Regions from separate parts of the Homo sapiens genome. Here all the other regions are linked to region 2. The links come from fine-mapping of genetic effects on gene expression. A gene starts in region 2. Each other region holds a variant in brackets. All regions are shown on one strand. Distances are between the middles of the regions.

What was found. PIP is the estimated chance that this variant, and not a neighbour inherited with it, causes the effect.
Region 1: its variant is the best candidate, but not a certain one, in a credible set for the expression of MMP16 in tibial nerve (GTEx, PIP 0.75).
Region 3: its variant is the best candidate, but not a certain one, in a credible set for the expression of MMP16 in ileum (GTEx, PIP 0.54).

Annotation. Positions count from the first base shown.
Region 1 is chr8:88,359,309-88,362,077 of GRCh38, forward strand. The region is part of intron 2 of LOC105375630 (a long non-coding RNA gene); the gene reads left to right. Among named protein-coding and RNA genes, the nearest start is that of MMP16, 33 kb to the left of the region's middle. The variant T/C (reference allele first, on the strand shown) is at 1,499.
Region 2 is chr8:88,326,260-88,329,028 of GRCh38, forward strand. MMP16 (matrix metallopeptidase 16) reads right to left here and starts at 1,224. Exons shown (of 10, transcript NM_005941.5): 1 at 816-1,224. The coding sequence starts at 947. LOC105375630 (a long non-coding RNA gene) reads left to right here and starts at 1,585. Exons shown (of 8, transcript XR_001745653.3): 1 at 1,585-1,639; 2 at 2,670-2,769.
Region 3 is chr8:88,789,153-88,791,921 of GRCh38, forward strand. The region is part of intron 3 of LOC105375630 (a long non-coding RNA gene); the gene reads left to right. Among named protein-coding and RNA genes, the nearest start is that of MMP16, 460 kb to the left of the region's middle. The variant T/G (reference allele first, on the strand shown) is at 1,123.

The DNA.
Region 1 (2,769 bases), 33 kb after region 2:
TCCACCATTTGACATTCCCACCAGCAGTATAGGAGGATGAGGATTCCAACTTTTGCACATCTTTGTCAACAGTTGTTATTTTTCGTTTTCTTATATGTGTAGCCACCCTACTTGGTGTGAAGTGGTGTCTCATTTTGGTTTTCATTTACATTTCCTGATAGCTGTTGACTTTGAGCAACAGTCAGTGTGATTTAGGGTCATTTGTATATCTTCTTTGGAAAATGTCTATTCAGATCTTTGCCCATTTTTAAAATTGTGTATTTTCCTTTTTATATTGAGTAATCTGTTATTCATTCCATTTTGCCTCTTTTCTCATTGACTTATTAATGAATTGAATATGTTTTATTGAATCATTTGTCTCCACTATTGGTTCATGTCTTAGTTAGGTTTTTGTTGCTTATAATGAATACCTGAAACTAGTAATTTATAAAGAAAAGGAATTTATTTCTTCCAGTTACGAGGGCTGCAAAGTCCATGGTTGAGGAACTGCATCTGGTGACGGCATTCTTGCTAGTGTGGACTCTGCAAAGTTTCATGGTTGTGCAGGTTATCACATGGTGGGCATGCTGAACATGCTAGATCAGATCTTTCTTCCTCTTGTTATAAAGCCACCAGTCCTGCTCCCATAATAATCCATTAATCTATTAATTCATGAATTGATTCATCCATTCATGAGGGCAGAGCCCTTATGACCTAGTCATCTCCTAAAGGCCTTACCTCTCAATACTGCCACATTGGAGATAAAATTTCAACCTGAGTTTTGGAGGGAAAAATATTTAAACCGTAGCAGGTCATTAGCCATGCCAATATTTAACTTAGCTTAGCCTACTCTGAAATAATATTACACCAATCATGTGTGTATAAAAACATCACAACAGTGTACTTTCATTTATCTTTCCATTGTCTTTGTTAGTTTGTCATACAATTTTATATACAAGTCACAAATTATACAGTGCATTTTTTAAACAGTCAGTTGTTTATTAAAGGTACTAACATTTTTGTAAAAAAAAAGATTATGTTTACTCATATATTTAACCTACCTTGTGGGTTTTATTTCTTCATGTAGATCCTAATTCCAGTCTGGTATCATTTACAATTTTTCTGAAGTTCTTCCTTGTAGTACCACTTTTCCAGATCTAAGTTCTGTTAGATTTTTTTGGTCTAAAAAGCCTTTGCATAATTTTCTATATCAATGTTATAATATTCTGTATTTTTCAGAAATTTAAGGATATATTTCATTGTTTTCTTGCTGCATTGTTCTGAGAAGAATTCTCTTGTCTTTGTCCTATAAACTGGCAGCTTACAATAGTTTCATCTAATTTCTGGCTTAGGGTGATTTTCTTTTTTTGTTGTTGTTGTTGTTCAGTTTTGTTTTTGCTTGGGGTCCAAGGATCTTATAGCTGTGAATTTGAGTTTTCATCACATTTGAAAAAGTTTTGGACATTATTTATTCAAGTATTTTTACCCTCTTCCCCACCTTCTCTTCCTGGGTCTCTAA[T/C]TATACCTAGGTTAGACCATTAGCTATCTTTTCTCTCTTTGTTGAGGTTCTGTTTATCATTCTTTTTCAGTATTTTTTTCTGTGCTATATTTGGAATTGTTTATATGGTTATGTCATCGGGTTAACTGATCTTTTCTTCTGTAGTATTTAATCTATAGTTAATCCCTTGCTATGTATTTTTTATTTCACATGTTTTTCATCAATAAAAATTCCATTTAGAGCTTTATTTTTTTTCTATTTCTTCTATTTTCCCATTATTATGTTCATCTTTTCCATTAACATATTTATATATAGAGAGAGAACAGTTGTTTTAACATCCTTTATGATCAATTTCTTTTTCCATTTCTATTGACTGATTTTTCTTTTGGTTAACTTTTCTCCCGGTTTTTGGTTATGTTTTCCTGATTGTTTGCATATGTGGTTAGTTTTAGTTGGATACTGCCATTGATGGATGTTGAATTTTGTTTAATTAAAAAAAAATAAAATGTAGGCTTTTTTCTCTGGCTTTCAACTTGATCCTTTCTAAGCATTCCTTAACTTTGTTATGATGTGTCAAGAGCAGCCTTTATTCTGGCACTAATTTAAGCCCAATACTAAAGTTTAAGGCTTCTGAAGACATTAATGCCTGGTCTAAGTCTCTCTACTCTGACTAGTAGAACATGAACTGTTTTATCCTTGTATGAGCACTGAGAATTGTGTATCTACAGCTTTCTAGTAGTTCTTTTCTCAGGTCTGAGGGTTTTTTTTCTCTCCTCAATCGCTCCTGCAAAAAATCTATGTCCACCTTTACCTTTCCACTGTTATTTTCCTAACTTAGGTCTCCATCACTATTCATTTAAATTCCACAGGCACTTCTAGGAGATTGTTCTGATGATAATTCGTCTCATTCTTATATTAGTCACTTCCCCACGGTAGCAGAATTATCTTTTTAAGATGAAAATCTAAAGGTTTGCTGGGCGTGGTGGCTCACGCCTGTAATCCCAGCACTTTGGGAGGCTGAGGCAGGTGGATCACGAGGTCAGGAGTTCAAGACCAGCCTGGCCAAGATGGTGAAACCCCGTCTCTACTAAAAATACAAAAAAAAAAAAAAATTAGCTAGGCGTGGTGGTAGGTGCATGTAATCCCAGCTACTCGGGAGGCTGAGGCAGAGAATAGCTTGAACCTGGGAGGCGGAGGTTGCAGTGAGCCAAGATCGCACCACTGCACTCCATCCTGGGCGACAGAGCAAGACTGTGTCAAAAAAAAAAAAAAAAAAAAAAAGAAAGAAAGAA
Region 2 (2,769 bases):
AGGAAGAGTACTTTGGCAGAGGTCTGACAAGTCCCTATCCTTAAGTTCCCTTTTGCTTTGTGCCGTCTGTTCCCAAAGCTATCAAAGTAAAGCAAATGACAGTCTAAAACCTCCCCGTTTTGCCACGAGAGTGTGAAATCAAATTAAAAACACACCTCAAAACTATTACATTGGGCCACGTTTATTTTCAATTGGCGGGGGAGGGGGAAAGAAGACACTTAAAAAGAGATGGATTTCATGTCCTCTGTGTAGCCAGATCTAGTTACAGTGTATTAAGTTATGTCTAAATGAAAAAAAAAAAGATTCTCAAGTGTTTTATCACAAAGTAATGTTATTAAACACATCTAGTGTTCCCACGCTCTCCTCTAGATTCTTTGATTTTTAACCTCCTTTGTTAGGCACCAAACACTGGGAGAAAGATTTCAGGAACAATACCTAGGCAGCACATGATGCCAGGGAATTAATTCTGTCTTCCCCGAGCTGTTTATCCATCATAAACTCAAGCTGCCTTATTTAGCTACACGGTTGCTATATGTAGGACTTCTCTTCCCTGGGTGAAAAGCATGGACCGGCTACAATTGTGTCTTTGAGCGCGCAGCATCGTGCTTTGTGCTGCCGGGGATAACGGATTCTGGGTCTCACACGCATCCGTCACCTAAAACACCCTTAAACTGAACCAGGGTCTCCACAGCTGGAAGGGAAACAACGTGCTGGGACCCAGGCTGCTCTGAGCTACAAGGATCCCAGGAGTGAAGGAAATGTTTCAGGGAGCAGCCCAGGCAGCGGGGGGAGGAAGAAAGCCCTCGCACTCTTACCTCCACATTGAAATACTGCTCCGTTCCGCAGACTGTAGCACATAAAATCCAAAGCAAGGTTTGCAAGAAAAACACCCCCGAATGATGCACGAAATCCAACCGTCTTCCAGTGCTGAATGTGAGTAAGATCATAGTGAACTGTGCTTCAATGGATGGACGAGCTCCCCTTCGTTTTCTCCCTCTCTCCCTCTCCCTCCCTCCCTCGTTTCCTTTCAAAAAAAAGTCCTCCGGGTGGGTAAGGAGCCTGCAGGTTCACCCACAGCCGGGCAAGGGGAGGAGACAGGGGCCCCGCGCTCGGCAGCCCCCGAGAGGCAGCGGCGAAGACAGGGTCAGCAGTAGTTCCTGTTCACCATCCTCCGGGGTCAGTCACCGGGAACGTGGCGCCTAAGTTCACCGGCGGTTCCGGCTCAAAGAGCCTAGTCGCAGCCGCAGCAGCAGCAGCCGCCGCCGCCGCCGCCGCCTCCAGCCCGTGCGTCCTCCTCCTGCACTGCCTACTCCTCCTCCTCCTCCGCCGCCGCCGCCGCCCCCAGCTCCTGCGGGAAGGGCCTCCGCCGCTCCTCACTCTCTCGCCTCTGCTTCTCCTTCCCTCCTCTCCTCGCTCCCCTCCAGAATGTTCATCCGTAATCTACATAACTCCTCCTTCCCGGGGTCTGCCTGGCTCTCGGGGCCCTTGGCGCGCGCGCGCGCGCGCACACACACACACACACACACACACACAGAGACACACCGCGACACACACACACACACGCGCGCATACACACAGCCCGACACACACGCACGCGCGCTTCTTAAAGGAGACGGCTCATAAAGGATTCCCCACTACGGTAGGGCGCACCGGAGGTATCCAGCCCGCGACAAGGGCCCTGGTTTGAGCACAGCTCTTCGACAGTATCTCCCATCCCGCATCCCCGAGGCAGGCACCCAGGAACTTGGGCGGCTCCATTCTTTCTTCCCGCCCACCCTGCCGCCTCGCATCTAAAAACGAGTGCGCCCCTCTCCAGCCATGAGCTGGGTGGGGCTCAGGCTGCGGACCCTAGTGGGGCCTGGGGAGCGGCCCAACCCTGGTCCTGGAGAGCGGTCGGCATTCCTGAGGAAGCGGCCCTGGAAGAATAGGGGCGCTGGGAATCAGAGGAGCGCCTGGTCACTGAGCGCCCCTGGGTGGCTCGGGTCGGTGGCCGGGGCTGACCAAGTTTGGGAAGACTGAGATAGCAAATCCCGAACGTCCAAAACTTTGTTGGGGTCCCGAGCCTGTGGCCTGGTGTCTTCCTGAATCCCCTCTACCATAGCTACATTCCGCCTTCCAGGCTTGAGGAGTAGGCACAGGGTTTTGGTGGCGGACTAGACAAATACAGAAGCGGGATGAAAACGCTCACTTTCCAAGTGAACGGTGGACACACGCGCACAGTGGGACCCGGGAGAGATGGTCCTGGGTGTTAACAAAACATCCGATGAGAGGGATGGGGGCGCTGGAAAGAAACCGGCTGCGGGAGCCAGGGGAAGGGTTGGGGAAAGAAGGAGAAGAAGCAGCCTGAGGAAAGGCGAGTAAAGCAGCTGGCAAGGGCGGGAGGAAGAGGCTGCTCGCAGACCGAGCGGGGGAGAGGCTGGCGGGAGCTAGGAGAGCTGCAGGCAAGAGGGGGAGGCGGCTGGCAAGAAGCACGGGCGAACGCGGGCAGGGAACTTCAGAGGAGGCTGCCAGAAAGGACTGGAGCTGTAGCAGTGCGAGGCAGTGGACAGGGGGGGCAGCAACCACCAGCCCTTGGCAAGTGATGGTTTGGCTGAAAGAGGAAGGGGGAAGGGAGCGAGGCAAGCATCTGTTTGGGGGCTAATGCCAGTAAATGTGCTTCTCCTTGGCAGCCAGCAGAGGGGAAGAGGAGCCCACGGGAAAGAAAAGCAGGCGAGGTTAAGAATAAAGAGTGTTCCAGGTATGACAGCTACCTCGGTGAGGTGGAAGAGA
Region 3 (2,769 bases), 460 kb after region 2:
TCAATACCTACAGTTGTGGCAAATGTTATCTGAATGAAAGTGCCACGTATTGATATCTAAAAGGAAGTAAAAAATGTAAATACAATGATCTTTTATCACAGAAAGTTCAACAACTTTGTATCTAAACCAAGAGACTCTATTGATTATTAAGACCAATAATAAAGTTTATTAAAATTATATGTATCAAAGAAAATGGTATGAACAGTATGACATCATCTTAACGTAACTAGTTACATCTGCAACAAACCTATCTTCAAGCAAGGTCACATTTTGAGGTACTGGAGTTTAGGACTCCAACATATGAATTTTGAGGGGGCATAATACAACCTATAACACTTATCATATTTGCAAATATCATTAAAAATATGCCACTGCTAATATCTAATGTTGACAGTAGTATGAAGAAAGAGTCACTCTTATAGATACTGACAGAATTTTACATTAACAAATTATATTTATGGAAGAATTTTTGGCTGAATGTATCAAAAACTTAAAATGTGCTCAACTTGTGCTTCCACTTCTAGAAATGTATTTTTTTTTACAAACACAAGGGTGAACAGAAATTATTACACAAATATAATCACTGCAGCAATATATTAAAAAAACAGAATTATCTCTTCTTGAATTCATTTACAAGTCATATTTTGTAAGCCATTATAAATAATATTAAAATGTTTTAATGTCTATGTTTTCATTATTAAAAAGAGAAGTGCAGTTGGTCATTCTATGTTCACCTTTTATCCTGCAGCCTTGCTAAATTTATTTAATACTCCTTGAAGATTTTTTTTATATGTCTCAGGACTTTCTACAGAGTGAATAAATGTTAATGAAGAAAGTTTTGTTTTTTGCTTTCCAATAAGTATTTTTTTAACTTTTTTTTTTTACTGCATTTGTCTAAAACTTTCAATAAGATACTGAGTAAAATATGTCAAAGCAAATGCACTTTTTTTTGATCTCCAATCCTAAAGAGAAACATTTCATTTTTCATCATTAAGTATGATGCTAACTGTAGTTTCTGGTGTTTTGTTTTTGATAAGTTTTTTTTTTTTTTGTAGATGTTCTGGAAAAAAACCCACACATTTTTAATTTGCTAAGAGTTTTAAAAATAAATGGGTGTTAAAT[T/G]TGGTTAAATGTTTTTTCTACATTTATTGAGTTCATCATTTTGACTTTTTTATTTCTTTTTAAAACTTTTGTTAATAGAGTGAAAGACATAGATTGATTTTAAAATATTAAACCAATCTCATACTCCTGAAGTAAACCATACTTGATCATGGTGTAATATTGTCATGTCATTAAGTTCAATTTGTTAAGGATTTTTACATCTATGTTCAGAAATGATATTGATTTGGAGTTTTGTATTCTTGTAATGTTATTTCCTGATTTCATATCAGGGTAATGCTTGTCTCATAGAATAATTTATAAAATGTCTGGGTAGAATTGGGAGCATATCTTTCTGAAATACTGAATAGAATTTATCAATGAATTTACCTAGAACTACTTATTTACGTGGAAAGATTTTTACTTACAAACCAAGTTTCCTTCACACATGTAAAGCTATTTTGTTTATCTATTTCCATTGGTGTGAATTTGGAACTTTATGTCTTTCAAGGACTTTGTCCAATTTATCTCTGTTATCACATATATTGGCATACAGTTGTTTATCATATGTCTATTTACTACCTCTAGGAGTCTAGTGATGCACTATCTCTCCTTTTTTATATTTATAATTCATGTCTTCCCTATTGTTTTCTAAAACCCAGATAAATCTGTTTTTAAATTAATCTTCTCCAAGAACAATATTTTAAAATATTTTAAAAATTACCTTCTCATTTTCTATTTCATTGATTTATATTCTTATCTATATTATTTCTCTCATTCTGTTTACTTTTTATATAATCTATTATTCTTTTTCTAGTTTAAGGTGGAAACTTGGGCCATTAATTTCTTTTATCTGTTCCTAATATTTGTGTTCAATGTTACAAACTTTCATCTAAGCACTGGTTTAGCTCTATTTCAAAAGTGTGATATATCAGGCTTTTTTGTGTGTTTTCTTTCAGCTCAAAATATTTCTAATTTTCTTTATGATTTCTTCTTTGAATCAGAAGTTATTTAGAAGTTTGTTTTAAAATTTTGGAACATTTAAAAAAATTACTTATGTTTTTCTATCATTTAAAGATCTTGATATGAAATAATACTGAATTTAGGGTGGGCCTGAAATCCAATGACATGTGCTTTTGTAATAAGAGAGATTATGGCCCTGCTCACACCTTGTTTTGGACATCTGGCCTCCAGAAATGTAAGAAGATACATTTATTTTTTTTAAGCTACCTGCTTTATCGTAATTTGTGATGACATCCCTAGTAAACCAATACAGATTTTTGGTATTAAGAAGTTCAGTGCTGCTGAAACCAATATCTAAATGTGTGTGTGCATATATTTTTCAAATATACAATTTCACCAAATTGTAAATTTCAATATATTTTATTGCATTAAAAGCATACCTAAATAATGCTGACCAAAAAGTGTTACATCAGATATCTACTTCTAGAAATATAAGATAAACATACTTTTCCTTATTTGTTTCGTTAAATGGCAGTGACAACACTTAATAAAAAAAATGGGAAGACTTTGAAGTGTATAGCAAAAACAACAGATGACATAGGGATTTCAGGACCCAAGAAACAAAACAGTTTTGAATTCCCTGATTTGTTCCCCTTTTCTTGTCTTTCTTTTCTTTTCCTTTCTTTTCTTTCTTTTCCTCTCTCTCTC